Regions from separate parts of the Homo sapiens genome. Here region 2 is linked to region 1. The links come from fine-mapping of genetic effects on gene expression. A gene starts in region 1. The other region holds a variant in brackets. All regions are shown on one strand. Distances are between the middles of the regions. Region 1 holds the start of DUSP22 (dual specificity phosphatase 22). Region 2 has its middle 38 kb from the start of DUSP22.

Region 1 (9,224 bases):
ACATGAGAAGCATTTGGGGCAGCCTTCTCTGACATAATGTTTGGCTAGAGACTAGTCGTTTGTTTTGTTTTTAATGGGGTATTGTAGTACTGAAGACTAATAAGTAGACAGTGAGGATAGGAGTTTTGTTTATAGGCTCTCCCCCAAAAGATTTGAGGGTTCAGACTCGAGAGAACTTTGAGTCAACTAGGAGTTTTCAAAGGCTCCACAGGAACACGACATTTGCATGCAACACCCTGTTTAGTTTAACCCTAATCTTACCAGAGACATTTACTAGACTAATATCTTAGCAGCGTGGTGAGGCACTCTGCATTGTGGCCGAGCCAGACTGTGGCTTTGAGTCCAGGCTCTGCTACTCACCAGCTGGGTGACCCTGGCAGTTCCCTTAGCCTCTGTGTACAACCAGAAAACAGGCATGAAAATAACAGGATCTACTTCATGGAGTTGTGGCTTACTCTATGTGGTAAAGTACTCAAAACACACCATAAACTCATTGGCAATTATAATTTTGGCCAGTGTGGGGCATCTACCTAGGAATTGCACACACAAACAAAAACAATAAAAAAAAAGTTTTAGTTTCTTGCCTGTAATTACCCCCTTCCTTATCAATGTCAAACATAAAGGAAGAGAGGAGGTGATTTTGGCTATTTGACAAGTAATCGAAGCTATGAGGAGCTTTTCAAGTTACTTTTTAGGAATTTTAAAACTTACTTGGGATGAATTAGCATCTCAGCTCAAAGGAAAGACTTTTCCTATCTTCAAAATCAGTGGAGACTGGGTTCTGCCCTGCCTGGCATTACTTATGCTACCTAACCTCTCCAAATCTCCATTCCCCAATCTGGGCAAATATAAGGTCGTTTGACCTCATAGGGCTACCGTGAGGCTGAGATTTTATAAAGTGTTAAAAAAAATGGTTCACAACTGTGTTGTTGTTGGGTTTTTTTTTTTTTTTTTTTGAAACAGGGTCTCGCTCTGTCGCTCAGGCTGGAGTGCGGTGGCACAATCACGACTCGCTCCAGCCTAGACTTCCCGGGCTGAGGTGATTCTCCCACCTCAGCCTCCCAAGTAGCTGGGACTACAGGCACAAGCCACCACACACTCGGCTGATTGCTTTGTTTTTGTGGGTTTTTTTTTTGTATTTTTGGTAGAAACAGGGTTTTGCCATGTTGCCCAGGCTGGTTCTAAACTCCTGGACTCAAGCAGTCCACCTGCCTCAATCTCCCAAAGTGCTGTGATTACAGGCACGAGCCACCACGCCCAGTCCTGTCTTTATTTCCTCATCTTTAATTTTCTAGAATATAAAAGCCTTTTTCCCCTCCATCTTCTGTATAATCTGCTGCGTACACCTAACGGAAACGGGCACAATATTCCGCCGTACAGGAGCCCGGAACGGACCGACAAGAAGAGCCACCACAGGGATGTGAATGATAAAAACTGCTGTCCCAAAGCACTCAGAATGCAGCGTGCACTGTTTAGACCAGAAATGCTCTTTTGCCAAAAATGACCAATGTGTACGAGATTGGAAAGAAATCTTGTCCCAGTAACCTCAGGGCACACACATTCCAAGTTATGTTAGTTCCAAAGACATTGCACATATTTATAAATGTTCTTAGAAAAGGATTTCTAGGGGTAGCACCTTCCGCTGATTCTGCAAATCAACCATTCTTCTTTTTTTACAGATGAAGCCTCGTTCCAAGTCACACAGTAATATATGGAAAAGTTCTAGTTAAGGTTCTTAAGTTACTGGCCTCCTGCGATCTACTTTGCCACTAATGAACCTTGTGATTTGGGGTAGTTCCTCCTGATCTCACGTTAAACATGTTTACTGCAGCAGGATTCCTTGCCTGGGCTGAATGCCCCTTCTAGGTCACTTTCATCCCATCTTCTGCTTTCCCCACTTTTCTGAAATTGCCTATTTTATCCTCTGGAGCCTCTACTCCTCCCTACCTTGTGTTTGTTCTCTCTCTCACCCCCACACACATACACACCCTGTGTTGTGCAACACAGCAGCCATTAGCCACAGTGACTATCGAGTACTCCAAATGTGGCTAGTCCAAAATGAGATGTGATTTAGGCATAAAATACACACTAGACTTTGAAGGTTAAGTGATCTGGGGGTCCCGAGATTTTTCCTTTCACAAAGACATAGTAAAAAACATGGAATCTTCCATGAATAACTTTATATATTGGTTACATGTTGAAACAATAGTTTTAATATATTGTTAAATAAAATATATTATTAAAATTAATTTCACCGGTTTATTTTTTAATGTGGCTACCGGAACATTTTAAGTTACATATATAGCTCGCATCATATTAGTGCTGGACAATGCTGACCTGTACTGAAGGTTCTGTGAAGAATCTTTGGGTCATTTACCACTGTACTCCCTTTGCCCCCTCCCCACCCACTAGCACAACACCTGGCTCATAGTATGTACATAATCAATAAGTGTTGAAGCAGGGAAGTCTCTAAATCTCTCTATACATGTATTTCTTCATTGATACACTGTGAGTCTCTATTCACAAGATAATAAAAGTCAAGAAATTTATTACCCATTTTGAAAGGTAAAAAGTATATGAATATTACTGCTTTTGTTGAAAAGCATGAAAATAACGTTGATCCCTTAGGCAACCATCTGTATTCCTAAATATATTTTTTGAATTGTATTACACAAATACTATAAATTAAATGCTGAAAACGGTGGAGAGTGAACAGCTCAAGTGGGAAAACTAGAAACAGCCAAAGGAAAGCTGAGATACCACCACCAATGGGAAGGCAAACGGAGCCCACAGACTTATGATGACCATCTTTATTGTTCTGTTTTAATTTAAAAAGCAGAAGGCTCGTGGTGCTGATGGATTCCAGTGCTCATCGGAATATAATACAAGTATTTATCCAAGAGAGAGACAGTCTGTTTCCAAACTTGATCACTCGCCAAAAAAAAAAAAAAAAAAAAAGTGAATACAATTCTCTTTACCAAAATACCCCAGTATTGATATGCAGGTCCCAAACACACAATAGTTCTTTCACAAACTGGGTAACCAGGACACAATAAACACGACATGCGCACGTGAAAAGTTAGCTAGGTTTTCCCTGCCCTACCGTGAATCCGCATTTGCAACACTCCAGCCCCAACACCCAAACCACTGCTGACCCAGTGCTGAGGGACATGAAAAAAAACACAGCCACATTGCCATCCCCACCCAGTGTGGAAGCTGACGGCATGTAGAGATGTGGGTGGGTGGAGCGCAATGAAAAAGTGAAGCAGAAAGACGACTCATCTAATCCAGGACCATTCAAAGACCCGTAAAAAGGTACTTGTCTTTGTTGCGGGCTTTGTAAAGTCTTGTCAATCCTTCCTCGAAACCAGCCAAGTACCAAGTAACAAAATCCTTAACCCTGTGGTTCACATGAATACACCCCGGCAACTCTCAGCTGCCAGAGCTGGAATCTGGCAACTTCCCTGGACGGGAAAGGCTAGCCCACCGCCCGGGAAGTGAGGTGCGGGCAACAAAAGAACACAGGGTGGGGCCCAGAAACGGACGGGACAAATGGAGCAACACAGATTTTCCAGAAGGCCTCATCAGCGCAAGCAGCCAGCAACAGGTTGCCCTTGTTGCAGAAGTCACATAACCTAATCAACTCTGAATCTTTTCTCTCCTCCCCACTATCTAGAAACAGCTCAGGACTTAGGACTCTGTTAACTTCTCTGTCCACAAGAAAAACTTCTCTGTGCTCACAGGCACACACACAGAATCTGAGGAGAAAGAGGAAATTACAGAGGACACCCGTTTACTAATGATGTGGGGGGGGCGGTGGTGGCTTCAAGAGCGTAGTTTGGGAGCGAAGAGGAGGGCAAAAAAGAAGCCACATCCATTCGGAGCTCAGCTGACCTCTCGGCAGAACAAGTGTCAACGCTTTCAAAGGGCGCGGCTTGTTTCAGCCACGAAAACGCACCGGCTGGCAAGGCAGGCGGCTGGGGGCTGCCTACCCGGAAGCCGGGTGGGGTGGGGGCGGGAACACCTCCGAACCCCGACTCCGCGGTCGCCGCCCAGGCGCGCCGCCCCTCCCTCCGCGCCCGTCCCCACCGCGGGAAAGGGCACCCCGGGCTCGAGTCGTCGGGCAGCCGACGCCGGCGAGACGGCAGGGCGTCGGAGCGGAGGCAAACCCAGCGCGAACGAGGGAAGACGTTACCTTGTTCATCCCATTCCCCATGGTGGCTGAAGGCGAACGCTAGCGCCCCGGCCGTGTGGTCGCAGGCGCACTATGGCATGTTACAGGGAGGAGGAGCGGCGGGGCGGGCGGGGAGGAGGCGCGCGGGAGGGACTGAGTGCTCGCAGTGTCAACAAGTCAGCGGCAGGGACCGGCCGGGCAACCCAGGGCGCTCCAGAGACCCGGCGTGGAGGGCAGGGCTTTCTGTGCGGCGGCCTAGAACTTCCCGGCGGGAGCCGGGCAGGGGCACCGGAGCCTATGCCGGGAAATGGTCCCGCCTTGCCGGTCCCCGCCCCCGTGCGCACCGGGCAGGCCCAGCGTCCCTCCTCGCTCCGCCCGCCCGCACCCTGGGATTCGTAGTCGGGTTCCTGGCTGCCGCGCCCCACTCCGCCCTCGCGGACCCCGGCTCGCGGCCGCCGGGCGTGGGAGGCACTAGGCTCGGGCTCCCAGGCGGCCGGCCCCGGAGGCCAGAGCGCGTGCGCGGCCCGAGCCGCCCCGCCGGGACACCCGAGGCTGCGCGGCGGGGCCTGGCGGACGCGCAGGCGCTGCCCTGACCGGGCGGCTGCGCTCGTCTCGGAGCCCGCTCCCCGGCCGGGGGTCTCCAGATCCCCCTTTGGCCTTTTCCCCTGGGGCGACTCCGGGGGCCAGTTACCAGCAGTCGCTACCCAGCCTTGGCTGCCTCCGTGAATCAGGTGCTAATCAGAGGCCTGGTCTCTGGGGGCTCCCCTGCCTGGGTTTTCTGAGTGCGGCAGATTTAGGCTGGGGGATTTCCTGCGGCCCTGCCCCATGCACCAAGACCGAGAAGCCTCGCCTGGTGGGGAGAGGTGGGCTACGTGACTCACCCCGGGGAGGCCCGACCTCCCTACCCTGGGGGAGCAGATGGCTGGATCTCTGACCTCAGACCTCACGGCCTTAGATGATGTGTGTCCCTTAATGTCTGCATTGTGGTTCTGTCTGGAATGGATCAATTTCTAAACTGTAGCAGAATTGTTTTGGGTGTTCTATCAACGTTATTAAACTCTGAAGTTTCTCTCCAGCGACAGAATCCTTGAGCCAGTGGTTTTTCTTCTTAATTTATGTATCCTCAACAATGTCCTGAACATAGTAGGTGCTTAATAAATATTTGCTGAATGAGTACATGCGTCAATCTGACGTGCCCTGGCTCACCCCTGCTGACTTCATTTTATCTTCTTGCTAAGCGAGTTACACACATGCTGGTCTCCTGTCTGTTCCTTGAGCCTGTCAGGCTTGCTGGGCTGTGCTCTCTATCCAGACACCTGGATCCCCAGCTCTCTGCATACCTGCCTGTTATCGCTGAGGTATCAGCCCAAATGCCATCTCTCCTAAGAGGCTTTTCCTAACCACCCAATTCCAGGTTGGTCCTCCAGTCACTATCATATTACTCCGTATTATTGATCGGAAATACATGTATTTGCTTTCTTTTTATCTGTCTCACTAGCCAGCAACTTTCAGATTAAAAAAAAAAAAAAAGTTGTCTTATTCAGTAATACAGCCATGTGGCCTGGGACAAAATCTAGCACAAAATAGTGATTTTTAAAATATTTGTCAAATAAATTAATAATTTCTTGTGGCCGAGAAAACGGGTGAGGTTCTGAGGAATGTGAACGTTTGGAAAGAGCTTGTAGACTCCATCTGTCGCCATTTCTGTACTTGTACCCCATATCTTCTGGGCAACAAATGGTATCAAAACCCCCCGTGTAGAAAGCCCTCAATCAATATGCGCTTGCATGTTTTCTCTAGGTAGAATGGGACCCAGACCCGGAGTGCCCTTTCTGCCTCTTGTTTTGGGAGAGTGTTCCTTCTTCACTGCCTTCACTTCCTCTTCTCCCGCCTGCTTCTCAGTCACCTGGACAGCCTGCCCTTTCCCCTCTGCCACACACTGCCATTAAGTAACTGTTTTTACCACCTTCCTGCTTAGAGACAACACAGAATCGTTAGTGGACTGCCTGGGGAATCCCAGTAATCAGCCTCTATTTCTAATTCTTAAGGAGGTCTTGAGCAAGATGATCAACTTTTCTGAGCTAGCTTTTTTTTTCTCTTTAAAACAAGAGCATTAAACTGTGAATTTTTGAAGCTTCTATCCAGCAACCAATGAATTACTTCTGCAGCCTTCTGCCCTCCTTGGGCCATTCATCCAACAGTCAGATGAACGTTTAAGAACACAACCAGTTCATAAACTGGTACTTGACCATGAATGACAAATTCATACTGATTTTTTTCTTCTGTCATCCACTTGCAATATTTCTCTCTTATTCATACTCTTCTTGTAGATATATTTCTCCAGCTTGGACCATCTGCTTTTCCCCCTAAACTCAGAACCTGCCATGGCTTCCTCCTTACCGTCAAAATCAGCATTCAGTATGGCCTAAAAGGTCCACATGCCCAGAGTTCCTATCAAAATCTCAAATTTTTCTTTTGGGTTAAATAGGAAAAGAGGAGACTATTAACACCAGAAGTCAGAAGAGTAAGATTTAAAAAAAAAAAAATTATTGGTTTTGGCTGGGCGTGGTGGCTCAAGCCTGTAATCCCAGCACTTTGGGAGGCCGAGGCGGGCCGATCACCTAAGGTCAGGAGTTCTCGACCAGCCTGGCCAACATGGCAAAATCCCGTCTCTACTGAAAATACAAACATTAGCCGGGCGTGGTGGCGTGTGCCTGTAATCCCAGCTACCCGGGAGGCTGAGGCAGGAGAATCGCTGGAACCCAGGAGGCAGAGGCTGCAGTGAGCCAAGATTGTGCCACTGCACTTCTGCCTGGGCAACAGAGCAAGACTCCGTCTCAAAAAAAAAAAAATTATTGATTCTGTGGGGTTGGGGGGTTTCCCACAAGAGACTTGCTGTACTCTCCTCCACCCTAACCCTGAACACCTCTCTTTATTACAATAATAATTCCCAGTTGTTCATGTCTTGCAGTTCTATGACTTTTACTCTCTAGCTCTTGATTATGGAAAGAAAGGAAGAAGGGAAACACTTCAACAAAGCTGGCGTATTTCACATCCATAGTAGAATCTCTATTCATTTGTGCTTTATCTCACTCATAAAAATTTTAAGGCATCACAAGCCTGGTGGATTTTCACACTATGTAAGATTTTTACTTCCACTTTTCTTCTTGTTATTTTCTTCCTCTCAGTTCTGCCAACATCACAAATTTTGGCAACAACTCCGAAAGAAGTCAAGCCTTCATGTGTGCACAATAAGGAATGGTCTACAGAGTGTGTAGGATAGCTGAGTCCATACTTACACATGGTTAAGGATAACTGGTTAATAGTGTATTTAGTGAGCAGTAACCTTAAACTTTAAGGTGGCGGTGTTTAAAAGCCCGCAAGCAGAAGCTCAACCATTAGAGTTAGCCAAATCATTATAGGTGTTAGTGATAATTTCAGAGCATCAAGATTAACCTCTATCCAACAGAGAAGTAATTATGTAATCTTCACTGGCCTCTTGAACATATTGCAGTCCAGGGTTTCTCAACCTCGGCAAAACTGACATTTGAGGCTGGATACATTTTTGCTCTAGAAGGCTGTCCTGTGCACTGCAGAATGTTCAGAAGCATCTCTGACTTGTGCTCATTACATTTCAGTAGCACCCTCTCAGTCATGACAATCAGAAATGTCTCCAACCCCCTCTCCTCAATAACCAGCTAAATCTACACTAATAGATCATGTTAGTTCTCTGCAGAATTCTTAAGCCACAATTGTTCATTATTAACAAATTGAGAACAAGAAGTTAAAATGAAGATCTAATCTAGCCAAAGCCTGACTAAAAGTAAAAGAAAGTGAGAATCTAATGAATTGTGGAAAGAAGAAAAAAGGTGGAACCTGGAACTACGGAAGCAAAAGCACAAAACATTTTCTCTGTTTCTCCAGCATTGTCCAGAGAGAGGCTGCCCAGTTGAATACCTGAGTTCTCAAGGCCATGCAGAACAGCCTGACCATGAGGATGGGCCCCTGTGGTATACGACCTCAACTCTTCAAAGGTCACAATTTCCAGCCTTCCAAGCAGTCTTCTAATTATGAACGTGGTTTCCTCCTTTCGCTGAAGAGATTTGCGGGGCTCAGATCTCAGCACGGATATCTGGAGAGTGTGGGGTCAGGGAAGAGCAGCAAGAGGAATGGATATCCAGGTAAATGACTGGGAGGGCAGAGAATCTGGGAGCAGGTAAAGGGAAAATGTTCTCAGGCATTTAGTTGGGAGTCAACAAAAGTCTGTGGACAGAGTTCCTGGGAGGATTGGCAGAGGCTTGCAGGAATGAAGTTATCAGGCAGATTATAAAACAGTGCCAAGCAAAGGGGAAATAAGACAGAGCCCTGGTTCCTAAAATTTGGAGGTCACATTATTATCAGCCTGCAGGTCAGAACATACATGCCTGTGTATTCTCAGGACAACTGTTGTTTTCCCCCAAATGGTAGCTGCCTGAGGGCAGGGACCAGTTGTTAATCAATCTCAGTATCCAGCATCTAAGATAGTCCCTAGTGTGTGGGGAACTATGTAGATGTTTGTTGATTTAGGAAAGAAATACATCTGGGAGGCTGTTGAATTTGTCCAGGCATAAGGATCACAAATAATTCATCCTTTGATATGCCAGAGACTCCATCAATACTGCATCTCCTCATGTTTCCTTTTCTTGAGCAATGTAGTTTCCATGTGAGATGGCTCTCTAGGAGTAACCAGAATCCTGTTGTCTTTTGTTTCTGAAACAGATATAGGGCACACTCAACAGAGAGAGAGAGAAAGAGAGAGGAGAGAGAGAGGAGAGAGAGGAGAGAGTCCTTGCACACAATGCTTCCGTGTATTGCTGTACTCCACCCCTTGGTCTACAGCCATAGCCGTACTTGGCAGAGCACAAGACTCTCTGTGGTTCTGCCTCTTGGCATCATGTTGTTTTTTGATCTTTGGTAAGAAACCATGCCTGACTTATGCATGGCCATCATGGAAGTTGCTTGTGTTCATTTTCCGTGTGTGGAATGGTCTGACTTGGCCCATCTACTTCCC
Region 2 (10,456 bases), 37 kb after region 1:
AATTTTGTTGGTGTTTGTGATTTGTCACCTATGCCTTCTTATAATAATTGTCCCTTGAGGAACTGTCTCAATGAGAATCCTCAAAGTAACTGTAATGTGCCTTATAAATATGTTGATTTATGCAGGGGTGTCCAATCTTTTGGCTTCCCTAGACCACATTGGAAGAAGAATTGTCTTGGGGCACACATGAAATACACTAACTATAGTTGATGAGCTAAAAAAAATTGCCAATAAATTAAAAAATCTCATAATGTTTTAAGAAAGTTTACAAGCTTGTGTTGGGCCGCATTCAAAGCCATCCTGGACTGCGTGTGGCCCATGGGCCATGGGTTGGACAAGCTTGATTTATGTGGAAGCACATAAAAGGCAAATGCACACATACGTGAAATTCTCTCCAAAGATTAATTACTTGGTCACCGCAGTTTCTTTCCACCAGAATGTAAATTCTATTTTGTTTAGTGCTGCATGCCTAGCTACTACAATAGCATATAGTAAGTGCTCAATAAATAACCGTTGAAAGAATTCTAACACTAATTTGAAAGAAATCCTCTGTCTTCAGCTTCTTAGCTTGTAATTTTGATGTTAGGGACAAGCAACATGGAAAGACTCCCAAAACAAAAGAGGCACCAGTGTCAGCAGCAGGGAAAGGGAAGAGGGGAGGAGGAAGCGATTGCGTGCCCCCATGCCCACAGAGGGGTACTGGGTCCCCAGTCCTGTTCATCTTTGCTGGTGCCTATCCTGGTCTGAGGTTGGAGCTCAGCTCATTGCCTCTGTTGGTGGGACCATGCTGGCAGTACTGGGAACAGAGTGTTTATTGAAGAAGTGAGATACAGTGGCTTTCACAAGAGTTTTCAAATGATCATTTAAAACTTCATCACAGCCCTATTCACAATAGCAAAGACATAGAATCAACCTAGGTGTCCATCAACTGTGGAGCAGATTAAAAAAATGTGGTACATATACTTCATGGAATATTATGCAGCCATAAAAAAGAATGAGCTTGGCCAGGTGCAATGGTTCACACCTGTAATCCCAGCACTTTGGGAGGCCAAGGCGGAAGGACCACTTGGAGCCAAGAGCTTGAGACCAGTCTGGACAACATAGCAAGACCCTGTCACTACAAAAGTAAAAAATAAAAACTCAGGCAAGTGTGGTGGCATGCACCTGTAGTCTTAGCTACTCAAGAGGCTGAAGCAGGAGAGTTGCTTGAGTCCAGGAGGTCAAGGCTGCAGTGAGTGACAGAGCACAATCTTACCTCTATCAAAAAAAAAAAAAAATGTCCTTTGCAGCTGGAGGTCATTATCCTAAGTGAATTAATTAACACAGGAATAGAAAACCAAACACTGCATGTTCTCACTTATAAGTGGGAGCTAAGCACTGGGCATTGGGTACACATGGACATAAAGATGGAAACACTAGACACTGAGGACTACTAGAGGCAGGAGAGAGAGATGGGGACAAGGCTGAAAAACTAAGTTGGGTGCTATGCTTACTACTTGTGTGACGAGATCATTCACGCCCCCAAGCCTTAGCATCATGCAATAAACCCATGCAACAAACATGCACATGTACATCTTGAATCTAAAATACTAGTTGAAATTATAAAATCAAATAAAACTTTTTCTGGGCTTTCAAATTTTGATGCCCTATGGGCAAAGCTACACTCAGCAAAGCCTAGTGTGCACAACAGCATTTGCAGTGACCCACTGGAGTGACCAACCAAAGGGAGACCTATTCTCTTGTCCCCACCTGCTCCTGCCTCTGCCAAGGAAAAGGAAATGCCCGACCTTTCAGACATTGGAAATAACTTTTTTCTTCTCCTTACCCCTTTCTAACTCTTCAGTATAGATGACTAATTCTGCTGCTCATTAAGGGTTGGGGTCACTGTGTAAAGGTTCACCACTCCCCTCTCCTTGGTGTGCTTTCTGTCTCTCTCATCATTTTTTAGAACAGCCTGGTCACAGGATGCACCTGCCCTCCTCTCCTCCATGGGGTGAGCCCAAGGAGCCAGGTGCAGCCCTTGTGGGGAGAGGCCCACAGCTGTCCTGCCTGTGGGTGGGTGGGCCTGGTTAAGTTCAGTGGAAAACCATTCAGACCTTGGGTCCAAGTGGAGGTTTTTTAACCCAGCCTTACCAGAAATAAAGCCAATACACTGACTTATATCTGCTTTCTGTACCTGGTCTTAAAGCTGTAACTGGCAGAGGTGTGGTAAATTTACCTTCTCAAACCCCAACAACAATGGGTTTGATTTTCCTTAGGCACAAAAGACATTTAAAAGTGAGCAAATAAAGATTAGCCAATTCCCTTACATAATAGTTCTGCAGGGCTTTGGCAAGGCTGAAATCAAGGTATACCAGGTTTAGTTCTGGAGAAGCGGAGGACTTGGATGCATGCTTGTCAGTGTGGGTGTCTTCATGGAAGCCTAATTAGCACTTCCCGTTCCCACCTGAGGCCCGAACTAAGCAATCAGCCCAATGAGTACGGATGAAGGTATACTGAGCTTCCCTCCTAAGCTTGTCAAATCTAGCAGTTTTCATTTTTAAACATTACAAAGTTAACTTCTTAAACTTAAAAAAATCCGCTTGTGAGGAGATGTTCTTCCAGGGAAGTGATTATCTGTCTGAGGCACTGACTTCCTCTTAAAGAAAAATTGGAAGTTTTCTTTTCCCCATGGAGATGGCGTCAGAATTAGAATTGCCACATCAAGGGGAGATTTTTCATGATTAGTCAACCAAAGGCAGTCAGAAAAAGATGAAGTTATTTCAAAAAGGAAGCCGCTCCTCCAGGAAGTATTTTTTTCTAGCACACATTTAGTGTTTTAGAGGAAAATGTGTTGACTTTGTAAATGGATATGTTGTCCTTCAATAACACGAGTGGAATTGTCATGCTGAGAAATTTCTTACAAACTTTATTCTTCAAGGAATTTTAGATCTAAGTTAAAATTTTAGACTTGATTTAAGATCATGATCAGCTTACATTTTTTCAATGTCAAAGATTCCTTTCTTTAAAAAGTCCCCATGAGATATGAAATAGATAAATTATGGAAAGTATAACACTGTCACAAAAGTGTGTGTATAATGTATGTTAAATATAATTTAATATTAAACAAAATTATGGAACAAATTTATAGAAGCATATATCAAACAAATACAATTTGACATAAATTATAACAGCTCTCGGCTGGGCACAGTGGCTCACGCCTGTAATCCCAGCACTTTAGGAGGCTGAGGCAGGGAGATCACCTGAGGTCAGGAGTTTGAGACCAGCCTGGCCAACATGGTGAAACACTGACTCTACTAAAATACAAAAATTAGTCAAGTGTGGTGGCGCATGCCTGTAATCCCAGCTACCTGGGACGCTAAGGCAGGAGAATCGCTTGAACCCGGGAGGCCGAGGTTGCAGTGAGCCCAGATCACACCACTGCAGTCCGGCCTGGGCGACAAGAACAGGACTCTGTCTCGAAAAAAAAAAAAAAAAAAGACATCTCTCCCACTCTCCCACCACTATGTCTCCATGTGCTGCCTGCCTGGGAGACAGTGTCAATATAAACCTGTGACCTCTTTGGGGCCCTGACTCCGGGCTAGCAAGGCTCAGACCCATGCATCCTAACTTTGACGTAGCTCTTGTTAGCCAGGGCTGGGAGAATGAGGTGTTCACGCACAAATCAGGCGCAGCTTTTGAGGTCATCCACACATGGCTTTGGTGACAACTGAAGCTCAAGATTCTCCAAAACACTGAGCCAGGGGTCCCCTCTGTCTCTAGCTGGCAGCAAGTAGTTTAACCTCTTTTGTAAAGTTAGGGCAAAGAACAAGATGCTGGGACAGGCTCACTTTAGCTCTAAAATGCCACGATTCTCCATTAGAAACTTTCTTTGGATTTTAGGGTCATGGCTACGAGAATGCAAACGGGCCTCTCTGTCCTCATTGGTCGTTCTTTGTTGATATCAGTATTTTGAAATGGACATGAAAAGCTCTGAGAAAGACTTCTAAGTCACTGAAAACTCAAAAGAGAAGTCATTCCGTCATCACTTCCTACTTGTTTGATACCTTATAAGAAAACACACACGCGTTCTCTGTATTGTAAGATACTAACACATGGCTGTAAACTGTGAATGCACAGTGTCACGTGTCGAGTTTCATGCCTTCCAGGAAGCTCTGTTTCAAAATTGTGTGACTTATTCTCTTCTGCTAATATTCTTTTAATTTCCTCTTAAAGCCAAGAGTGGGGTTCACTTGGTATGTTTTTCTTTACCTATAATTTCACTCTTACTTGATTGTATTCACACGTTCATTCATTCAGAATGCAGGTTCTGAGTACCCACTCTGGGCTAGCACCAGGCACAGAGAGATGAGCAAACCAGCGCTGATCACAGGCCCTACCGGAGCTGGAGGACATGAAACCTTCCCAGGCGTGTCTCTCCCATCCCATTCTCATGGTGGAAGGATGAAAGGCCATTGTTTGACCTTAAACTCCCCAACCTCCACGTCAGCCAGGCCACAGTAGAGTGGATTGGAATGGGAATCACAATTATTCCCTAGGAATTCAGAATGGAGACTTAGACAGAGTTTGTCTCGTATATAAAATGCTGTGGTTGTCGAGGCTATTTTCCATGAAGTAGCAGCTATGGCCAAAGTGAAGAATGAAGCAGGCTGCCAAAAAGACATGGAAACAGAAACGGAGAAGTGACTTTCTGGTTCCCCTCCACATTCAGGGTAATGTCTCTAGCCTTTTACTGAGGCCCAGTTGTATTCCTGCTTATGACTTTTATGAAATACTTCAACTCCTGTAGTATTACAGCAAATCTACCCCTTTGCTTAAGTTAGTCCCAGTCGAGGCTTGACAGTGTCCTTGCTCATAAGCAGATCTCAACTTAGTCAGACAGACTGAGAAATACACTGCAGGACATGGTACTTCACAGAGTGATAGGACCTCAGTTCCTGCATCCCTGGCACATGGTAGGAACCCAATGGCATGCGTGTTGACTTCACAACCAAATGAGTGAAGGAAGCGCAATGAGACCCTGACTCATTTTTTTCCCCAAGTTCCTTCTCTGATAGGATCCTTAGAAATCATCTGGGGCTGGGCAGCGGCTCACGTCTGTAAATCTAGCATTTTGGGAGGCCGAGGTGGGAGGATTGCTTGAGCCCAGGAGCTCAAGACCAGCCGGGACGACATAGTGAGACCCTGTTTCTACAAAAATTAAATAGCTGGGCATGATGGTGTGTGTCTGTAGTCCCAGCTACTTGAGAGGCCAAGATGGGAAGATCGCTTGAACCCAGGAGGTCAGGGGCTGTGTGATTGTGCCAGTCCTGGGCAACAGAGCAAGACCCTCTCTCAAAAACAAAGCAAACAAACAAAAAAGAAATAATTTGGTTCAAATGTGTCTTCTACAGAAGAGGAGGCTGAGTCCAGTGAGGTAGAAATCATTTGCTCAAGGTCACACAGCTATACCTGCTGCAGAACTGAAGCTATAATTCACGTCTCTAAGCTCTAAATCCAACGTCCTTTCCACTATCCCAGGATGCCCCCTTCCTGCCGAACCAACTTTCGTTGACCTCAAGAAGGCAAAAAGCCCCCAAAGTCAACCTCCCCTCTTTAAAACCTCTTTAATACAGATTCATAATTCAGCCATCATGCAGAAAAGCACTCAGAAAGGAAATTCCTGATGCTGCTCACCATGGGCTTGGCCAGCCACAGACATGATCCAGCCCATGGGGGAGCCGCCCCGTGCTGGCGTGTCATGAAGACACCAGTATGAGGCAACCGAGACAGCCCACAAAAGGATTCTTGGTTTTATTGTCCCTTGAGACGGGATTGTTCTCTGCCCTTGCCGGTTTTGCATGCTTCTTAAACCCTGTTTGAATAAA[T/C]GAAGAATTAATTATGAATAAATGAAGACTTAATTTCCCCAAAATGGATGAGCCAAGCCATTCCCTCTAGTACAAAGATGTGAAAGGCATATCTGAGTGGGATCTGGGAGGGACTTAAAAATAAAACAAAATAAATCAGCTTGTTAATCAGGAGACACAAAGTGAAAACCCCACGTTAAAAAGGGAGGCAAGGGAATGATGGACAAGGATTTAGAGTCACAGTTACCAGCCTGCGAGTCAGGTGGGGCGAAGCAGGGACAGAAGGTCGCAAAGGAGCAGAAAATCTGAGTTAAATTGTCATTGTCCGGCAGGGCATGGTGGCTCACGTGTGTAATCCCAGCACTTTGGGAGGCTGAGGTGGGGGGATCACCTGACGTCAGGAGTTCGAGATCAGCCTGGCCAACATGATGAAATCCTGTCTCTACTAAAAACACAAAAATTAGCCGGGTGTGATGGCGCATGCCTGTAATCCCAGCTACTCAGGAGGCTGAGGCAGGAGAATTGCTTGAGCCTGGGAGGCAGAGGTTGCAGTGAGCCGAGGTCATGCCACTGCCCTCCAGCCTGGGCGACAGAGTGAGACTGTGTCTCAAAAAAAAAAAAAATTCATAGTCCTGGCTTATGGATCAGTGGTGATGGGTGGTGGGTCCGTGGGTGTTTTTTTTGTATTATTAGAAATAAATAAATGAGTAAATTAATAGAAAAGGGCCGTGCATGGGCCAGTGGGGAAGTGTGTGGTGAAGCAAGAATTATGAGTCATCTGATTCTGTGCAACCGAGGCCCATGAATGAAACAGTAAAATAAAGCGTAATTAAGGTGCCAACATAATTTCCTCTCCAACTAGAAAATAAACACTTCATGGCATCCCTAAGAGTTTTGGATTTATTATGATTTTACCTGTTGAGATAAATAATCTGTCACTGTAGGTAGAAATTGAAAGTCTCTTTGGTCTGTTTAATATCTGTGTTAAGCTGTCATACATGCATGTCAGCTGTAATTTATAGAATAATAGAAACAATAATGCCTGGCTTACCATTCTAGAATAAGACACTCTACGCTGACCTTGGGTTTCCTGTGTATGGCTTACAAGATCAGACTGACATGCTAAAATTTGTTTTCGTTTCAGTTATGAAATAATTAAGGACAGGCTTTTTCAGGTCCTTCAGTGTTGTTTAAATGAATGAGAAGGTATGTTTCTTTGACTTTCTGAAACAGGGTTTAAGAAGCATGCAAAACTTAGAAGGAAAACAAGAACAAACTGACTAAGGAAGCATTTTGAATGAGTTCGGGTGCAGTGAAATCCTTCGGTGGGCAACTATTAGATCATTTCTGTGCAATCAAATCTTCTAGACTGAATAAAGATAAGCCAGCTTCATCTTAGAGAAAAAGAAACTTTTTGATATATGAGATAATCACAATGCAGAGGTAGATGAGGGAGAGTTTAAGGGGACGGTTTGCAGAAAAGGCTGTCGAATCCCTAAAAATAACAAGGCACTGCCACAGTCATTGGAAAACTCAAATCCTGAGGTGAGGTAATACTAGGAAAATGCTAAGTTCACTAAAATAGTTTTTTCCGCTGCAGTTTAAACACAAGTTTAGAGAGTATTTTTGTTGCTGATGGTGGTTGGTTTTGTTTTTTAAAGTATATTAAAGAAAAAATAATTCATCTCCTTCTAATAACAACAAAATTGAGACCTCTGTTGCAAGGATGAAATGATGGATTATCTCCTCTCTTTATCAAATCATCACTCTGGAATTAATATAAGAATCATAATCTTATTTACCTAGCTCTGTGTGAAAGTGGTCATCTATCAATATATGTGACATTTCATTCAGTAAGAAAGGAAAGAAACTTGCAACCAACTTTCAGGGAAGAAATAACATTTCCTCTGAACAATTCTAAGGAGGAAGGCAAAGTAGAGTTTCATGTTCTCAATTCTGCTGAAGATATGAATCATCACACCTTTGCTAGCAGTTACATGTCATAAGGGCTTTGAGATGCCAAGTGAGTCAAGCCCATTTGTGACATTTGATAGGCCTACTTTTTATCCATGTGGCACTACAGAATGGATTCAAATCTCACTAGAACAATCTTTCTCTTTCTCTCGCTCAGTCTTTTTCTTCTGTGTTTTTCTAGAGTCGAGAAGTTTTAAAGAGGAGGGGCTAGGAGACCAAACATATCAAAAGAAGCCATGGGGGAGCAAAATCCAAAGGAATCTGTCGCATGTAAAGAGATAATATTTTTGCTTTCTTGTTTTTCCTATAGTTGCTGTCAAGGAGATGAGCCCAAGTAATAAGGAGGATAGGTAGATGACAGGGATGGGGAGAAACTTCAAATTAACATTTTTATTTTAACATGTGTATACCAGACACAAACTATTGAAGCCGAGAGAGGGGTAAATAAGAAATACGAATAGACATGTAGCAGGTAAGGAGATTGAATTGGTAATTAAAAACTTCCTACCAAAAAGCTCAGACTCACATGGCTTCATTGGTGAATTCTATCAAATGCAGAATTAGCAACAATCTCTCATAAACTTTTTTTTTTTTCCTTAGACGGAGTTTCGCTCTTGTTGCCCAGGCTGGAGTGCAGTGGTGTGATCTCGGCTCACTGCAACCTCCACCTCCCGGGTTCAAGCAATTCTCCTGCCTCAGCCTCCTGAGTAGCTGGGATTACAGGCATGTGCCACCACACCTGGCTAATTTTGTATTTTTAGTAGAGATGGGGTTTCTCCATGTTGGTCAGGCTGGTCTCGAACTCTCAACCTCAAGCGATCCGCCTGCCTCAGCCTCCCAAAGTGCTGGGATTACAAGCATGAGCCACCACGCCCGGACCCTCTCATAAACTCTTAAAAAGAGAAGAGGAGGAAACACTTTTCACCTTATTCTATGTCGCCAGTATTACCCTGATACCAAAACCAGTCAAAGATATCATAAGAAAAGTACAAACCAATATCCCTTATACATATCAATACAAACATCCTCAACAAAACACAAACTGAATCCAATGAGATTCATCCAAAGAAGATAAGGATGCTTTAACTTTGAAAAATCAGTCAATGTAATGCACTGTATTAATAGCATGACAACAAAACCACATAGTCATCTGAAGAGATGGGAAAAAAAGCATTTTACAAAATTTAACAATCTTTCATAATACAAACACACAAAAACTAAGAATAGAAGGGAACTTCCTCCACCTGATCAAGGGAATCTACAAACAAACCACACCTAACATTACACATGTGGTAAAAGACAGAATGTTTTTGCCCTAAGGAAGTCCACTCTCACCACTTCTATTCAACATTGCAATGGAGGATCAAGCCAGGACAATTAGACAAGAAAGAAAAGTGAAAGACATCAGATGGGAAAGAAAGAAGTAAAACTATCTCTGTTTGTAGATGACATGATCTAATATTAAAAATTCTAAGCATGCCACAAAATAAACTATTAGGCATATAAAATTAGTTCATTAAGGTTGCTGGGTAGCAGATCAATATACAAAAGTCGGTTGGTTCTATACACTAGCAATGAACAATTTGAAAATAAAAGTAAGAAAATAGTTCCATTTATAATAGTATCAAAAAGAATAAAATATTTTAAGGATAGATTTTTCCAAAAAATTCAAGACTTCTACACTGAAAACTATAGTACAAAACATCATTGGAAGAATTACAGAGGATCTAAATTAATGGAAGACATCTCATGAACATAGATTGGAATACTCAATACTTATTGTTAAGACGGCAGTACTCCCCAAATTGATCTACAGATTCAATATAATCCCTATCATTATCCCAGCTGGCTTTTTTTTTTCGGCAGAAACTGACAAGCTTATTATACAATTCATACGGAAAGGCAAGGCACCAAGAATAACCAGAACAATCTTGAAAAATTAAAACAAAGTTGAAAGACTCACACGTCCTGATTTTAAAGCTTACTACAAAGTGACAGTAAGCAAGACAGTGTGGTACTAGCCGGACATGTAGATCAATGGAAGAGAATTTAGAGTCCAGAAATAAATCCTTATGTTTGTGGCCAATCAATTTTGACAAATAGAGCTACCCTAGAATCCAGCAATCCCACTGCTGGGTATATACCCAAAAGAAAGAAAATCACTATACTGAAGAGATGTCTGCATGCCCATGTTTATTGCAGCACTATTCACAATAGCCAAGATCTGGAAGCAACCTAAGTATCCATCAATAGATGAATGGATAAAGGATATGTGGTACATATACACAATAAAGTACTATTCAGCCATAGAAAAGAATTAGATGCTGTAATATGCATGGGACTGGAGGTCATCATGTTAAGTGAGACAAGCCAGGCACTGACTGACAAACTTTGCATGTTCTCACTCACTTGTGAAAGCTAAAAATTAAAACAGTTGAATTCATGGAGATACAGAGGGGAAGAATGGTTCCCAGAAGGTAGTAAGGGCTGGGGTGGGGAGGACAGAAGGATGGTTAAAGTGTACACAAATATAGTTAGAATGGGTGGGTGCGGTGGCTCATGCCTGTAATCCCAGCACTTTTGGAGGCCGAGGCAGGTGGATCACTTGAGGTCAGGAGTTCGAAACCAGCCTGACC

What was found. PIP is the estimated chance that this variant, and not a neighbour inherited with it, causes the effect.
Region 2: its variant is fine-mapped to the expression of DUSP22 in whole blood (TOPMed, PIP 0.97).

Annotation. Positions count from the first base shown.
Region 1 is chr6:287,532-296,755 of GRCh38, reverse strand. DUSP22 (dual specificity phosphatase 22) reads right to left here and starts at 4,269. Exons shown (of 7, transcript NM_001286555.3): 1 at 4,196-4,269. The coding sequence starts at 4,216. RefSeq lists enhancers at 1-109, 3,537-3,796, 4,089-4,589, 4,590-5,090, 5,017-5,306 and silencers at 2,977-3,036, 3,047-3,106, 2,986-3,142, 3,887-4,906.
Region 2 is chr6:249,487-259,942 of GRCh38, reverse strand. No RefSeq gene overlaps it. Among named protein-coding and RNA genes, the nearest start is that of DUSP22, 38 kb to the left of the region's middle. RefSeq lists a silencer at 4,628-4,828 and an enhancer at 7,750-7,819. The variant T/C (reference allele first, on the strand shown) is at 5,868.